Regions from separate parts of the Homo sapiens genome. Here region 2 is linked to region 1. Evidence: fine-mapped expression QTL. Tissue or cell type: lymphoblastoid cells. Region 1 holds a variant in brackets; the other region holds the start of a gene. All regions are shown on one strand. Distances are from middle to middle.

Region 1 (8,100 bases):
GGGTGCGGTGGCCCACGCCTGTCACCCCATCACTTTGGAAGGCAGATGAGGGAGGATTGCTTGAGGCCAAGAGTTCGAGAGACCAGCCTGGGCAACATGGCAAAACGCTGTCTCTACAAAATATTAATTTTAATTTTAATTTTAATTTTTTTGAGATGGAGTCTGGCTCTGTCACCCACCTAGAGTGCGGTGGCACAATCTCGGCTCACTGTAACCTCCGCCTCCTGGATTTAAGCGATAGTCCTGTCTCAGACTCCTGAGTAGTTGTTGTTACAGGTGTGCGCCACCACGCCCGGCTAATTTTTGTATTTTTAGTGTAGAGGGGGTTTCACCATGTTGGCCAGGCTGGTCTCGAACTCCTGATCTCAAGTGATCCACCCGCCTTGGCCTCCCAAAGTGCTAGGATTACAGGCATGTGCCACCACACCAGGCCTACAAAATATTTAAAAATTACTCGGGTGTGGTGGTGCGGGTCCATAGTCCTTGCTACTTGGGAGGCTGAGCCCAAGAGGTCAGGGCTGCAGTGAGCTGTGATCTTGCCACTGCACTCCAGACTGGGCGATAGAGTGAGCCTCTGCCTCAAAAAATATATACAAAAAATTCAAAATAAGGCCAGGCGCAGTAGCTCACACCTGTAATCCCAGCATTTTGCGAGGCCAAGGCGGGCAGATCACGAGGTCAGGAGATTGAGACCATCCTGGCTAACACGGTGAAACCCCGTCTTCACTAAAAGTACAAAAAATTAGCCGGGTGAAGTGGTGGGCGCCTGTAGTCCCAGCTACTCTGGAGGCTGAGGCAGGAGAATGGCGTGAACCCAGGAGGCGGAGCTTGTAGTGAGCAGACATTGCGCGACTGCACTCCAGCCTGGACGACAGTGCGAGACTCCATCTAAAAAAAAAAAAATTAGCCGGGTGTGGTGGCACGTGCCTATAGTCCCAGTACTCGGGAGGCTGAGGCAGGAGAATCTCTTGAACCCACAAGGGGGAGGTTGCAGTGAGCCGAGATTGCGCCACTGCAATTTAGCCTGGGCGACAGAGACAGCCTCCGTCTCAAAATAAATAAATAAATAAATACACAATTTTTTTTTTTTTTTTTTTTTTTGATACGGACTCTTGCTCTGTCGCCCAGGCTGGAGTGCAGTGGCGTGATCTCGGCTCACTGCAAGCTCCGCCTCCCGGGTCCAAAGCCATTCTCCTGCCTCAGCCTCCCGAGTAGCTGGGACCACAGGCGCCTGCCACCACACCTGGCTAATTTTTTTGTATTTTTATTTTATTTTGTTTTTGTTTGAGACGCAGTCTCGCTCTGTTGCCCAGGCTGGAGTCCAGTGGCGAGATCTCGGCTCACTGCAAGTTCCGCCTCCCGGGTTCATGCCATTCTCCTGCCTCAGCCTCCTGCATAGCTGGGACTACAGGTGCCCGCCACCACGCCTGGCTAATTTTTTGTATTTTTAATAAAGACGGGGTTTCACCATGTTAGCCAGGATGGTCTCGATCTCCTGACCTCGATAAATACACAAATTTTTAAAAATCAGAATATCTGGCAACACTAGGCCGGTATTCCTGCATGGGGACAATTGGATAGAAAGGAGAATCAGTTAACATTTTGGTCAGGCATGCTCAATTCAATGCACCTTTCAGATTTCCCAGCCTGGAAGAGGTGCCTTTCAGGCTATTCTCTCTCTTCTCTTTTGAGTATATTTCCATTCCTGCTTGGCCTCTGCAGGCATTGAATTTGAAATCCCTATTCTAGGCATTTGCAGCCACTAATTGGTGACGTTTCTTCTTCCACATGGTATCTGATTTCTTTTTTACCCTCAGAGGACTTAGCTCAGTGTGAAGCACATCCTTGGCTTGCAAAATATACATAATTGAACAGTGAAAATATCTTTATAAGTCACCTCTTCTTCACCTTTTCTGTCAAGCTAGGGATGGATTCTTGCTGAAGCTGTACAACCAACAGCCTGAATATCACACTGCAAGTGACAGTGTTAGATAAATACATTGACTTCATTTCCTCAGCTAATTCTAGTGTCCCTAAAAACTTAAGTGAATCAGCATTAGTAGGATCAGAAAAGCTGATAACAAATTGTAAAAGAAAAATTTTTTTAGACAATTAGTGAAATCTGAACATTGACTAGATAACTGATAAGATTAAGGGGTTCTTGTTGATTTGATTAGGCATGATAATAGTATATTGATTATGTTTTTAAATGAGTGTGGGGCTGGGCGTGGTGGCTCACGCCTATAATCCTAGCACATTGGGAGGCTGAGGCGGGTGGATCCTTTGAGGCCAGAAGTTCGAGACCAGCCTGGCCAACATGGCAAAACCCCGTCTCTACTAAAAATACAAAAATTAGCTGGGCATGGTGGTGCATGCCTGTAGTCCCAACTACTCGGGAGGCTGAAGCAGGAGAATCGCTTGAGCCACGGAGGTGGAGGTTGCAGTGAGCATCACTGCACTCCAGCCTGGGCCACACAGCAGACTCCATCTCAGGAAAAAAAAAAAAAAAAAAAAAAGAATGTGGGAGAGGGAAATGGGCAGGAATGTAGTTGAAAAGATTGGCCAAGAGTTTGATAACTGTTACAGCTAGGTGAACGTATGGATGTTCCTTACACTATTCCTTCTCCTTTGTATGTTTGAAATTGCTATAATAAAAAGAGATAACAGTAGGATGATAGCACTTAAGTAAACTTTCAAAACACAAACAGCACACTCCCCTGCCAAACTTAAAATGCATATGCACATAAAATCATGGATGGATCTAGGCATGGTGGCTTGCTCCTCCTATACTCCCAGCTACTTGGGAGGCTGAGGCAGGAGGTTTGCTCGAGCTCAGGAGTTTGAGGCTGCAGTGAGCTACGACTGCAGCACTGCACTCTAATCTGGGTGATAGAGTGAGACCTCATCTCTAAAAAAAATTTAAAAACAAATAATAATTAAAAATTAAAAAAAATCATAGGTGGAAAGGAGCACAATTTTTTTTTTTAAAGAGATGGGGGTCTTGCTGTATTGCCCAGGCTGGCCTTGAACAACACAATTCTCCTGACTTATCTTCCAGAGTATAAAAGGAGGACAATTTTATGATGATGGTTGTTTTGCGGATTATTTGTAAAACAGAGAGAAAGGATAGGGTTGCCAGGCACAGTGGCTCATGCCTGTAATACCAGCACTTTGGGAAGCTGAGGTGGGAGGACTGCTTCAGCCCAGGAGTTCTAGATCAGCCTGGGGAACACAGGGAGACCCCATTTCTACAAAAAAAAAAAAAAAGGCTGAGCAGGTGGTACACGGCTGTAGTCCCAGCTACTTGGGAGGCTGAGGTGGGAGGATTGCTTAAGCTTGGCAAGCTGAGGCTGCAGTGAGCTTTGATTGTGCCAATGAGCCCCAACCTGGGCAACAGAGTGAGACCTTGTCTCAAAAAAAAAAAAAAGATAGGGTTGTGGAGGGGTACAAAGAGTCTTCAATTATATCTGTAATGTTTTATTTCCTTAAAACATGAAGGTGGATGGGAACACTAAAGCAAAAAAAATACTGAAGCAAATATGGCAACATCAATATTTACTAAATCTGGGTAGTAGACACATGCTACCTGGGTGCTTGTTATATACCACACCGAATTTTTCTGTGTGTTTAAAGTATCTCTCTCTCTC[T/TC]TTTTTTTTTTTTAAAGGGGGCTGAAGCAGCACAACATCCAAAGCAAAACAAACAAATGCTTAGCTTATTGTTGAACTTCTGAAGAGCCTGCATTTAGGTCCATATAGTCACAAAGACAGTTTTAAGTTTGACAGGAATGTTGATCCATTTTAGGTTCAGGCAAAACTGTAAACTTAGAGTTTTTTTGTTTTTGTTTTTAAATAGGCTGGAGTGAGGTGCACGATCTCACTGCAGCCTCAAACTCCTGGGCTCAAGTGATTCTCCCATCTCAGCCTCCTACAGGTGCATGCCACCAAGCAAGCCTGGCTAATTTTTTTTTTTTTTTAAAGTAGAGATGAAGTCTCACTATGTTGCCCAGGCTGGTCTCCAATTCCTGGGCTCAAACGATCTTCCAGCCTTGGCTTTCCAAAATGCTGGAATTACAGGAGTAAGCCACCACATTTGGCCTGGATCTTAGGAAAAATTTGAGTTTCAGAATAAACATAGTATTCTGATCAAAGTGTAGTCCTCAAAATGTGGCCTAGGAGCTGCTCCTATCTTACACTATTCTCTATGTCTTTGGGAAGAAATGACTTATATTTGGTTTTAAAAAATATCTATCATCATAAAGCTTCTTGGGTGATTAAAAAAATACCTATCACTTTATTGTTGTCATTAAAGCACACACCTACCTGCCCCTCCATTTTCCTCATTAAATTCTGATGAAATGACTTGATGCCAGAGTAAGATGAAAGACGTGGTCACAATTGTCTTATGATTGGGAAAGGCTGTGAACTTAATGGGGCTCTTTCCCTGCTTTCTTTCTCCTGCATTCTTTTGATTATACTCTTCTGCCCATAAATAAAGTGTAGCAACATGTTAAGCTATGGAGTTAACATAGCTAGTGATACATTATTCTCATTATATGTAATAAGTTGTCTCAGGTATTTCAAATAATGTTTCCTATACATCTACCATCTTGAAAATAATAAAAACAAAATGACCCCCCAAATGTTAAACAACAAGGACTACCTGAGACCGCACATGTAAAAATGTGGCAGATTTTCAGCAAATACTAATAGGAAAATGACTTAAGTTTCTCCTACTTCACCTTTTGGCAGAAATACTGGCATAATAAAGGACATGTTTTCCCAGAGGGGGAAAAAAAAGACAAGTCAATTCTTTAAATCTTGAAACTAAAAATGCATCACTGCTGTAATGCATTTCGAAACATACTACCAGGAAAGAGAAAGAAAAAAATTAAGACGCATTAGTGTAAGTGATATTAAAGAAAATGGCCGGAGATGGAACTCCTGCCTAGCAATTCAAGAAGCAAAGGAGCTGGTGGGATAGACAGGTTGTTCCTTCTGCATTGCTGATGAAAACAGGAAATTGAATTTCTATATATTTTTCCTTTTTACAACTAAGAAAAAGGCAGAAGAAGCACAAAGAGCCTGGCTAAAGACAGAAATCGTAGTGCTCTCTGAAAATCAACATCAAGAACAAAAAGTCCTACTCAATTATCTGCAGTAACTAACTAGAGAAAACTCCCCATCTTTTCTTTATTTAGGAATATCTTTGTTACTTTGATAGAGATATTCAGTCATTCATCCAATCACCCATCAATCCAATGAAAAAACATTTATTGAGCACACAGAGGTGCCAGACCCTAGGTATACTGTGTGTGTGTGGAGAGAAGTGGGTGAAGTGAGACTAAAGGAATATCATCTTTCTTAAATTTTTTTTCCCAACACCACTAAACCTGTGGGAGAATATCATCTTTTTCCACAAGGATTTAATAGTCTAGTGAGGGAGACAAAAAGATCCTCTCAAAAATGAAGTATCTGGGCTGGGTGTGGTGGCTCATGCTTGTAATCCCAGCACTTTGGGAGGCCAAGGCGGGTGGATCATTTGAGGTCAGGAGTTCAGGACAAGTCTGGCCAATATGGTGAAACCCCATCTCTACTAAAAATACAAAAATTAGGCCGGGCGCGGTGGCTGACGCCTGTAATACCAGCACTTTGGGAGGCCGAGGTGGGCGGATCACGAGGTCAGGAGATCGAGACCATCCTGGCTAACACGGTGAAACCCCATCTCTACTAAAAATACAAAAAATTAGCCGGGCGAGGTGACGGGCGCCTGTAGTCCCAGCTACTCGGGAGGCTGAGGCAGGAGAATGGCGTGAACCCGGGAGGCGGAGCTTGCAGTGAGCCGAGATCGCGCCACTGCACTCCAGCCTGGGCGACAGTGAGACTCCGTCTCAAAAACAAACAAACAAACAAACAAACAAACAAACAAACAAAAATTAGCCAGGCGTGGTGGTGCACATCTGTAATCCCAGCTACTTGGGAGTCTAGGCTGGAGAATCTCTTGAACCTGGAGGCGGAGGCTGCAGTGAGCTGAGATCGCACAATTGCACTCCAGCCTGGGTGACAAAGCGAGATCCTGTTCCCTCCACCCCCCCACACCAAAAAAAGAGGCGTCTCTGCCAGGCACGGTGGCTCAGGCCTATAATCCCAGCACTTTGGGAGGCCAAGGTAGGAGAATCGCAACAGCCCAGGAGTTTGAGACCAGCCTGGACAACATGGTGAAACCCTTCCTACAAAAAATACAAAAATTAGCCAGGGGTGGTGGCGCGTGCCTGCAGCCCCAGCTACTCGGGAGGCTTAAGCGGGAGGATCACTTGAGCCCAGGAGGTTGAGGCTGCAGTGAGCTGTGATCGCGCCACTGCATTTCAGACTCAGCAACAGAGCGAGACCCTGTCTCCAAAAAAAAAAAAGAAAAAAAAAATGAGCTGTCTCATTGAGCTCAATCCTGCCCCTTTCTAAGGGGGAATAATAAAAACAAAATACCCATGGAGAGAAGGAAAATTTAATGAAAACAACAACAAAAATATATTGGAAAAAGCAAGCAACTTGGAACTGGATCTTAGTCTGATGACTGGCTCCTCAATTCCTAAACTGGATGGTTTGAAATCTGTTATTTAACATCCCTGCATACACTGGGGATAGTAATTCCTATCTACCTAACAGAGCTGAAGCTTAAACGAGAACATTGTAATATGCCTAAGGTCCCAAGAGCTGAATCAACAAAGGGAATCTGACAGAGTCAGCTTACAACAGAGGGAACTGGTAGTTTTGCCTCAATGGAGGGACCTACAAGGGACACAGACAGGGATCAATCTCTGTGGGACCAAAGCTTTGAATCGAAGGCAGAAATGCAGTCGTTTTACAATTTTCTCCTTTCCCCCCAAAATAAGAGCAGTATTTAGATTCTTTCTATTGGTCAATATTGATGCTTCTGCATGGTGGTGCTGGCAAAAGGGATGACGGATAAAGTACTGGATTTAGGGCACCTCTGCTATGTGACCTTGGGCTCACGTTACGTCTTCGCGCTTCAGTTTTCTCATCGGTAACACGAAGATCAAAGTTCCTTTTAAACTATGCGTCCAGTTTTTGTGAGGATCCAACTCGAATGTATGTGAAAACGCCCTGGAAGCGCTAGAGCGCCAGGCAAATATTAAGTTTGGTAATTTTTTCCCCGTAAGAACTAGGCGTTCCAAAGAGGAGGACAACCTCTCTGCTTCCTTTGTCACTCTCCTTTCTTCTCGACCTTTACCAACTTTGTAATTTATAATCACAGTAATAGCTGACATCCTACAGCGGTTTCTGGCACCAGATTCTCGGGCCCCACCCAGATCCACACCACCAAGCCGCAGCGCCGGCTGAGACCGAAGGAAAACTTAGCCGTTCTCCACCCGCGGGCGGGCACTCGCCTCTAGGCCCCACCACCCAGAGTCCCGGAAGCCAATCCCCACAGCCCTGGAGCACTGCCCCGCCCCTTCAAGAGGGAAAACAATATGGCGGCAAGGAAGAATGGCAGGGGCGTGAGCCAATCACCGCAGAGGCCTAGCCTCATCCGGCAAGGCTAAGAGGCGGTATCATTGGCTAAGATGGACAGCCAGAGCAACCAATAGAGCGATCGGAAATGGGGGAGAGGGCGGGCGACGGGAATCTCACACAGCGGTTAAGGCCCCTAGAGCCAAGGGCCCAAGGACTGGCTTGGACTATAACTCTTTCCTTTATCCACTCCAGAGTTCTCCATCCCACTTTTGCTGGCTGGCCGCCTTGCCTGCGGACTATGTGATAAGGGGAGGAAGGAGGCGGCGGTGGCTGAACGCGCCTGACAGGCCGGGCCAGTGACAAAGAGCCGGCGGCTCAGGCTGAACCCCGGGAAGCGATCCTTTCGAGGAGGAGAGCCCAAGTCCCCTTATAGATAGGAAAGACGCAACTCACGTTGTCGATCACGACAGGCTGGTTGGCGATCACATCGTAGGACTCCATGGCAGAGGAATCTCTCCTTCTGGGGAAGGAACTGCCCAGCCGGGTCCGCCGCTAGCGCCACTGACACGCATGCGCAGTCTAGCCGCCGGTTCAGGGCGGCGAGGGAGCGGCCCGACCTCGCCTCTGAAGA
Region 2 (8,100 bases), 36 kb before region 1:
CTCCTGCCTCAGCCTCCTAAGTAGCTGGGATTACAGGCATCCATCACCGGGCCTGGCTAATTTTTTGTGTGTTTTTTAGTAGAGATGGGGTTTCACCATATTGGCCAGACTGGTTTCAAACTCCTTACCTCAGGTGATCCGCCCACCTCGGCCTCCCAAAGTTCTGGGATTACAGGCGTGAGCCACCGCACCTGGCCAGCAATCTTGTTTTTGAAGTCCCCTTTACCTCACAGCCTGTGGCCTGGCATGGATTAAAAGTTTGAGTGAGTATATGAGTATTCAAGATGGAAACTTGGGACACCCTCCCTTTTCCTTTAGAGGCCCTGGGAGAAAGTGCCGCAGTGAAGGGGACTGAGGAGGAATTATTAGGTAGGAAGAGAACATGGCAGAAACTAGATCAGAGAGGTGGGAAGTAAAGGGAGGAGAGAATTTCAAAGACAGAGAGTGCACAATCTATCTGTCCCATGGTCCAGGGACTCCGGTATGGCTCAATGAGTTAGGGAGGTGATATGGCCTCTAGTTCATTGCATTTCCCCTCCCAGTTAGCTCTGTGACTGGCAACCACAAAGAGAAATCAGACAGAATCACAAGGCCCTGCCCTGATGCTGACATAAAAGGTAACTGGCTACGTTGTCTATATAATCAGAGGGTTGAGGGGCCTCAGAGTGTAACTGTGGGGCATTAAGTGCAACGTGAGAGACCAAAGGTCTTTTCTTTTTTTCTTTTTTCTGTTTTTCTTTTTTTTTTTTTTTTAGCCAGAGTCTCACTCTGTCGCTAGGCTGGAGTGCAGTGGTGCAATCTTGGCTCACTGCAAATTCCGATTCCCTGGATCAAGCAGTTCTCCTCCCTCAGCCTCCTGAGTAGCTGGGATTACAGGCACACGCTACCACGCCCAGCTAATTTTAGTATTTTAGTAGAGATGGGGTTTCACTATGTTGGCCAGGATGGTCTCGATCTCCTGACCTCGTGATCCAACCACCTCAGCCTCCCAAAGTGCTGGGATTACAGGTGTGAGCCACCTTGCCTGGCTGTGAGGGACCAAAGGTCTTTTCTCCTGGGTCACATCCAGCTCTGGCCCCTGCCAGCCCTCCCCATTTCCATTTCCCCACTGGATACCCAGGGAGGGCTAAGTAAAGACTCGGGTTTGCTTTGAAATAAAAGCACATGCTGGCCACAGATAGAAAGGCGGGGAGACTCCTTTAGCAAATGTATGGAGATCCCAGTGTGCCGGACCCCAGGCTGAATGCTGGGTTTTCTGTTCTCACAGCCAGGAAAGCACAGATGGAGGTAAGAGGTGAGGAGAGGGACAAAATGATCACCTGTCTTCTACTCATGAGGCTTTCTGGATCAGGAGGAGTTTCAGCAGTTGTCTAAGTCTAGAAGAGAGATGGTTGTATGTATGTGTGTGCGTGTATGTGTGGCTTGGGGTGACATGGGAAGTGTGAAGGGTGTCCGAAAGAGAGAGATTGGGAAGGAGGGAAATGAGACAGGTTAGTGGGAGATGGATTCTGGGGGCAAGGTTCATGGCATCCCTGGGGGCTCCTCAGGAACTGGTTGAATAATCTGTAGCCCCTGGACACTAGGCGTCTACATTGGACCATTTGCTGTGGTTGTTAGGAGGAGGACAACATTCCTGTTGCAGGAAGTTAGCCGACAACCATCAATGAAGGTCATAAGGATGAGCAGTTCACAAAGCTCCTACACCCTTGTTTCTCATTTAATGTCTGAAAAATCCCTGTAAAGCATAAAACAGACTCACAAAAGGAGGGTCCCAGCCAGGTGCAGTGACTCACGCTTATCATTCCAGCACTTTGGGAGGCTGAAGCGGGAGGGTCCCTTGAGCCCAGGAGTTCAAGACCAGCCTGGGTAACATAGTGAGACTCCATCTCTACAAATAATTCTAGAAATTAGCCAGGCATGGTGGAGTGAGGTGGTGGTCCCAGCAACTTGGGAGGCTAAGGTGAGAGGATCATCTGAGCCAGGGAGGTGGAGGTTACAGTGAGCTGAGATCATGCCACCACTGCACTCTAGCCTGAGCAACAGAGCAAGACCCTGTTTCAAAAAATAATAATAAAGAAGTCCCTTAGCAAAGAAGTGTTGGAGCTAGGGGTTGAGTTCCAAGTCCCCCATAAGGCAAAGGCCACAGGCTTTTTGCCCTGTGTCCCAAGGTAGGGGAACCAGGCAGAGCTGGAATGTGTGCTGTTTGCTTGCCCAAAAACCTATCCAGGCTTACAGGCCAATTGGGAGAAAACATAAAACATCCTCCACAGCCTACATTGAGCCAAACAAAACTTGATTTTGAGGGATTGTGCAGGTGTGGGAAGAGGAAAGACTCTTGTTATGGGAGTCAGGATAGCGGGTTCCACCTCGACTGGGCCCTTGCTGTTTGCGTGTCATTGAATCTCTCTGAAATGCAGTTTCTTCACATATAAAATGTGGATAAAAGCGCCTACCTCCTAGGAATGATGTGAGGACTCAACAAGAGAATGCACGTGTTGTTCTGAATGTAGTACGGTGCACATAGCAAGCACTCAGTACTCCTTAGGTTTTATTATTGCCGTTATTAATACAAAGAGGTTGTGCTGCATGGTTGCTCATTCAGGCCCTGGTGGCTGTTTCCCACCTTCAGCCCTGGCTCCTGTGGCTAGAGCCCTGGTGCCCACAGCTCAACCTGGACCTGTCCACCCTTGAAGGGCTCATGATGCAGCATCAGGGAGTCCCAGATCGAGCCGCTGACACCTCCAAGTCGGCTGCAGCTGTGCATCCGCTCAGACCACAAGACTCAATGGAGGATGCTGACCTCTCTTTGTTCTCCCAACGAGTACTAGGCAAGGAGGGAAGGAAGGTGAGCGCTTAGAAAAAACGTGTTGGTTTCAACTGAAATGACATTAAGCTATCGTGGAGGTAAAGGAGAGGGGTTGAGCCGGTCAGGAATCCAGGCAACCTGACCCTATTTGCCAGTGTCCGCTTTTAATTTTGGTCGCTAAGGGCAAGCGCCCGTGACAAACATGGCGGCGGCAGCCTCAGGCGCAGTCACCTGCCGGAGCTGCGCCCGGGGGCCGCGCGGAGCCAATCGCTGGGCGGGGGCGGAGGGAGAGGCTGGGGAAGCCCTAGAAGTGCGCGCAGGCGCATTGGCTCGCACCTGGCTCCCGCCAGCCGTGGGATTAGGCTTCGCCGGCTACGATTGCGGTGAGACGCTGGCCAGCGGCCGGGGCTCGCGGGCAGGAGCGGGCTGGGCTGGGGCCGATCTGGCACAAACGACAGACCCGAGGGGGAGGGGAATGCTTTGCGCTCTGGGAGTCATGGGGGCTATCTGCGGGGGTCTTTGGGGTGATCATATTGTGGATTGGGAGAGTTGTGTGGTCCGGGCGGAAGAAGCGGGGTTCAAGGGGGCAAGGGTGGAATCCTCGCAGAAAGGCTCTCCGGGGGTCTGGAGGAAAGGGATGCAGTGGGTCAAATAGCTCCCTGGTGGTCTGGGATCGAGGGATGCACTGGTCAGGTCGGGATCCGTGCCATTAGCATAAAGGCATTTAACCCTGGTGGCACTTGGGGAGCTTTGAAAAACACCGATGCTGGGCCCGCCCGAAGAGATTCCGATTTAACTGTTCTGGGTGAGGCCTGGGCCTCGGTATTATTGCACAGCTCCTCAGGTGATTTTAACGTGCAGGCGGTGGGGAGCAGCCCTACACGTGTTTCAGCACCAGCTATTGAGTGAAGAGCTCCTGGGCTGATCCCAAACTCCTCAGTGGCTTGGGAGGGGTGGGTGGTCCTGAGGTGAAGCTGTCGCCTCTTCTGGGACCTGTGGGGGAGGGAGAGGGAGAAGGTCCCCATCTCAACAAGTTGAAAGCTCATTTCCAGCCGGAGGAGGAGGATGGGCCCCCACCCCCCAACCCTGGTGCTAGACCCTGCTGTGGGGAGACTGGGCAGGAAGACAAGACCCCGAGAGTGAAACAGGAAACACAGCAGACAATTCAGGGGTCAGCTGCCTGTTGAGAAAAGGGCACATATTATACCTTTCATGTTCATTTGTTCATTTGGTATTCCTGAGGATAGGCAGAGAATGGAATTGTTTTCTCTGCTTCACAGATGTAGGAATAGACTCAGATAGTAAGTTAAAGATAATGTTCACACCTGACCCAGGGCTCCTGACTCCAAATTATGCCTCTTCTTAGCTTTTACCTCTGCACTAATGTCTCTTGTACAGTCTGATACCTCTCACTCCAGGGGCCCAGTTCGGCATTCTTGGTTTCCGCCACTAAATTCATCAACCTCCCCCACCCACCATAGGTTGGTTCAGAAATCAGGGAGATGTTGCTGCTTCCATCCCTTTCTAGTCTTTACCTACCAGGGGCCTGGTAGGGTGAAGGGGAAGAGTTTTGACACCTGCTAGAGGGCTTCTTCCAAACAGATCTGTCACTTCCCCACCCCCAGCGCCCCACCTGTTGTCCTCAGCATAGAATCTTGCACAAGGTTTACAAAACCCTTCCTGATGTGGCCCCTTTCTCCCGCGCTGCTCTGAGCTCTCTTCCCAGATTGTTTCTGTGTCTCTTAGCACAGTGCTGTGCACCCGGCGAAAGCTTAATAAATGTTCCTCTGTTATGATCACTATTCTTCTTTGTACCTGCTGCCTTGCTTTAGTGTCTTACTCAGAGAGGCACATCAAGCCTCCCAGGCTGCCCCTTCTCTCTGACTCCCACAGTTAAGCAGAACACAGAGCTAGGAGGGGCACAGTGGGGTCTGAAGATGACAGTTTTCCTATGACTGCTGCTGCTGTTCCCTAGGGCTGAGGATGTTGTTGATATTGACCTTTTAGGGGCCAATCGACCCAGCAGGGATTGACTGAGCAAGCTGAGGGAGCCTGGTGGAGGCAAAGGGCAGGGATCAAGGGCGGGACTAACCCAGCCCTGCTTTTTTTTTTTTTTTTTTTAAGAGACGGAGTCTCACTCTGTCCTCCAGGCTGGAGTGCAGTGGCGCGATTTCGGCTCACTGCAAGCTCCTCCTCCCGGGTTCACGCTATTCTGCCTCAGCCTCCCGAGTAAGCTGGTACTACAGGCGTGCCCGCCACCACGCCTGGCTAATTTTTGTATTTTTAGTAGAGAGGAGGTTTCATCGTGTTAGCCAGGATGATCTCGATCTCCTGACCTCGTGATTCGCCCGCGTCGGCCTCCCCAAGTGCTGGGATTACAGGCGTGAGCCACCGCGCCCGGTATCAGCCCTGCTTTTAAGAAGCCTGTGGGCTGGAGGAGGGGAAGGGAGGCATTTGGATGCCTGATAAGGGGGAAAACGGGAGAGAACACGTGATTGGGTGTGCTTGGGAAAGCCGTGACACTGGATGAGCAGGATTTGATAAGATGGGGGCAGGGTGTGGGGGGGATGATGAAGTGAGAACGCTGTTGTTTTAGTCAAAACCTGTTTTGAATCTTGACTCCAGCACCTACTAGCTTTGTAACTTGGGCCTGTTATTTAATCTTCAGAGCCTTGGTTTCTTCATGTACAGAACGTGAATGCAGATAGTAACAGAGCTGTAAGGGGTCTGATGATGGATATAAAAGCCAAGCATACCCTGTATGGCTGAGGAATAGTATATAGTTATCCTAGGGTATCTTAGGTGACAGGAACAGCATGAACAAAAGTGTGGAGGTGGCATTTAGAAAGGAATTTGATGGATGGCAGACAAGAGGGGCTAGGATATTCCAGGTGGCAAAAGGCATAAAGCTTGGGTGCTGGAAAGACAATTTCAATCATGGATTTGGCAGAAAGGTCAATGATTTTTATTTTTGATTGATGTTGCCCCAGCTGGTCTCTAACTTCTGGCCCCAAGTAATCCTTCTGTCTTGGCCTTCCCAAGTCCTAAAATTACAGGCATGAGCCACAACGCCCCACCTAGTGACTGATCTTTAAAGATCATGAAACCACACGGTGGCTCTCGCCTGTGAGCCAGCACTTCAGGAGGCCAAGGCGGGCGGATTGCTTGAGGTCAGGAGTTCAAGACCAGCCTGGCCAACGTGGCGAAACCCCGTCTGTACAAAAAATACAAAAATTAGCCAGGCATGGTGGCGCACGCCTGTGATCCCAACCATTTGGGAGGCTGAGGCAGGAAAATTTCTTGAACCTGGGAGGCGGAGGTTGCAGTGAGCCAAGATCCCACCACTGCACTCTAGCCTGGGCGACAGAGTGAGACTCCGTCTCAAAAAAAAAAAAATCATGAAACCAAACTTCAAAGAAATGGAAAGAAAATGGCTACTGTAGGCCGGGCGCAGTGGCTCATGCCTGTAATCCCAGCAGTTTGGGAGGCCAAGGTGGGTGGATCACAAGGTCAGGAGTTCAAGACTAACCTGACCAACATGGTGAAACCCTGTCTCTACTAAAAATACAAAAATTAGCTGGGCGTGGTGGTGCATGCCTGTAATCCCAGCTACTCGGGTGGCTGAAGCAGGAGAATTGCTTGAACCTGGGAGGCAGAGGTTGCAGTAAGCCGAGATTGTGCCACTGCACTCCAGCCTGGGCAACAGAGCGAGACTCTGTCTCAAAAAAAAAAAAAAAAGAGGAAAAAGAAAAAGAAAATGGCTACTGTGGGCCAGGCATAGTGGCTCACACCTGTAATCCCAACACTTTGGGAGGCCGAGGCAGGTAAATCACTTGAGGTCAGGAGTTCAAGACCAGCCTGGCCAATATGGTGAAACCCCAGTTCTATGAAAAATACAAAAATTAGGCCGGGTGTGGAGGCTCATGGCTGCAATCCCAGTACTTTGGGAGGCCGAGGCAGGCGGATCACAAGGTCAGGAGTTTGAGACCAGCCTGACCAATATGGTGAAACCCCGTCTCTACTAAATATACAAAAAAAAAATTTGCCGAGTGTGGTGGCGTGCGCCTGTAAATCCCAGCTACTCAGGAGGCTGAGGCAGGAGAATGGCTTGAACCCAGGAGGCAGAGGTTGCAGTGAGCCTAGATTGCGCCACTGCACTCCAGCCTGGGCGACAGAGCAAGACTCCATCTCTACAAAAAGAAAAAAAATTAGCCGAGTGTGGTGGCAGGCGCCTGTAATCCCAGCTACTGAGGAGACTGAGGAAGGAGAATTGCTTGAACCCAGGAGGCGGAGGTTGCAGTGAGCTGAGATTGAGCCACTGCACTCCAGCCTGCGTGACAGAGCGAGACTCTATCTTTAAAAAAAAAAAAATAGCTGCTGTGTATTGAGGGTCTTCCACGTAGCAGGCACTTGGCTTTAAATTCCTTTTGCATTTCAGCCCACAGCCATCTAAGAGGTTGACATTAACATCCCCACTTTGTGGGCGAGGAGCCTGAGGCTCAGGGAGAGGGAGTGACTGGCTCAAGGCCACCAGCTGGGACCATGAGGGTGGGTCTTGGAAGGTGCCAGGGAGGTGGGTGGAGTTGGTTGCAGGTTACAGGATTTCTCACCAGCTTATGCAAGGAGGCTGGTGTGGGCTCCAAGCTGTTCTTCCCTGGGAGAGGTGGGGCTGCTGTTCTCTGCTGGGGCAGATTGAGGGTGGGGAGGGCAAGTGGGAGAAGGCTGTTTCCCGATGGAGGAGTGGAATCTGGAAGAGAAAACATTAAAAGAGTAACCCTGCACACTCCTGCCTCAGCTTCCTCTCCAGGATGGCTGTTTACCTGGACAAGTTGCAGTTGGCACAGGTCTACAGGGGGCCGGGGGCAGTTTGTCTTTGGCATTCTCAAACATTGTATGTGTTCCTGCTCCTTGCAGGCCCCCATCTTCTGACTTTTCCTCGTGTGACCCATCTTTTCAAATTCCCTTACCTGAGGAAGGAGCCCGATTACAAGGATATTTACCTGCTCCTACCCTGATCTAGGTGAGCCCAATAAAAAGCTACTTTCTGAGCATCTTCCGTGTGACAGCACGGTGCTCTGTGCTTCCTGGACATTTGTTTAATCCTTTCTGTACCCCTGTAAAGATAGGCATTATTGGCCAGGCGCGGTGGCTCACACCTGTAATCCCAGCACTTTGGGAGGCTGAGGTGGGTAGATCACCTGAGGTCAGGAGTTCAAGACCAGCCTGGGCAACATGGTGAAACCCCATCTCTACAAAAATACAAAAATAAGCTGGGCATGATGGCAGGTGCCTGT

Evidence for each region. PIP is the estimated chance that this variant, and not a neighbour inherited with it, causes the effect.
Region 2: it holds the start of SLC68A1, and the variant in region 1 is fine-mapped to the expression of SLC68A1 in lymphoblastoid cells (GEUVADIS, PIP 0.95). The same link has a PIP of 0.9 or more in prefrontal cortex.

What each region holds. Positions count from the first base shown.
Region 1 is chr10:102,494,678-102,502,777 of GRCh38, forward strand. It overlaps ACTR1A (actin related protein 1A), which reads right to left and starts at 8,035. Exons shown (of 11, transcript NM_005736.4): 1 at 7,923-8,035. The coding sequence starts at 7,970. RefSeq lists enhancers at 6,019-6,519, 7,914-8,013. The variant T/TC (reference allele first, on the strand shown) is at 3,648.
Region 2 is chr10:102,458,262-102,466,361 of GRCh38, forward strand. SLC68A1 (solute carrier family 68 member 1) reads left to right here and starts at 3,134. Exons shown (of 10, transcript NM_024789.4): 1 at 3,134-3,189; 2 at 7,721-7,826. It overlaps LOC124902493 (a long non-coding RNA gene), which reads right to left. Exons shown (of 3, transcript XR_007062270.1): 2 at 7,417-7,553; 3 at 2,532-3,799. RefSeq lists enhancers at 2,653-2,722, 2,850-3,533, 3,534-4,216 and a silencer at 2,993-3,212.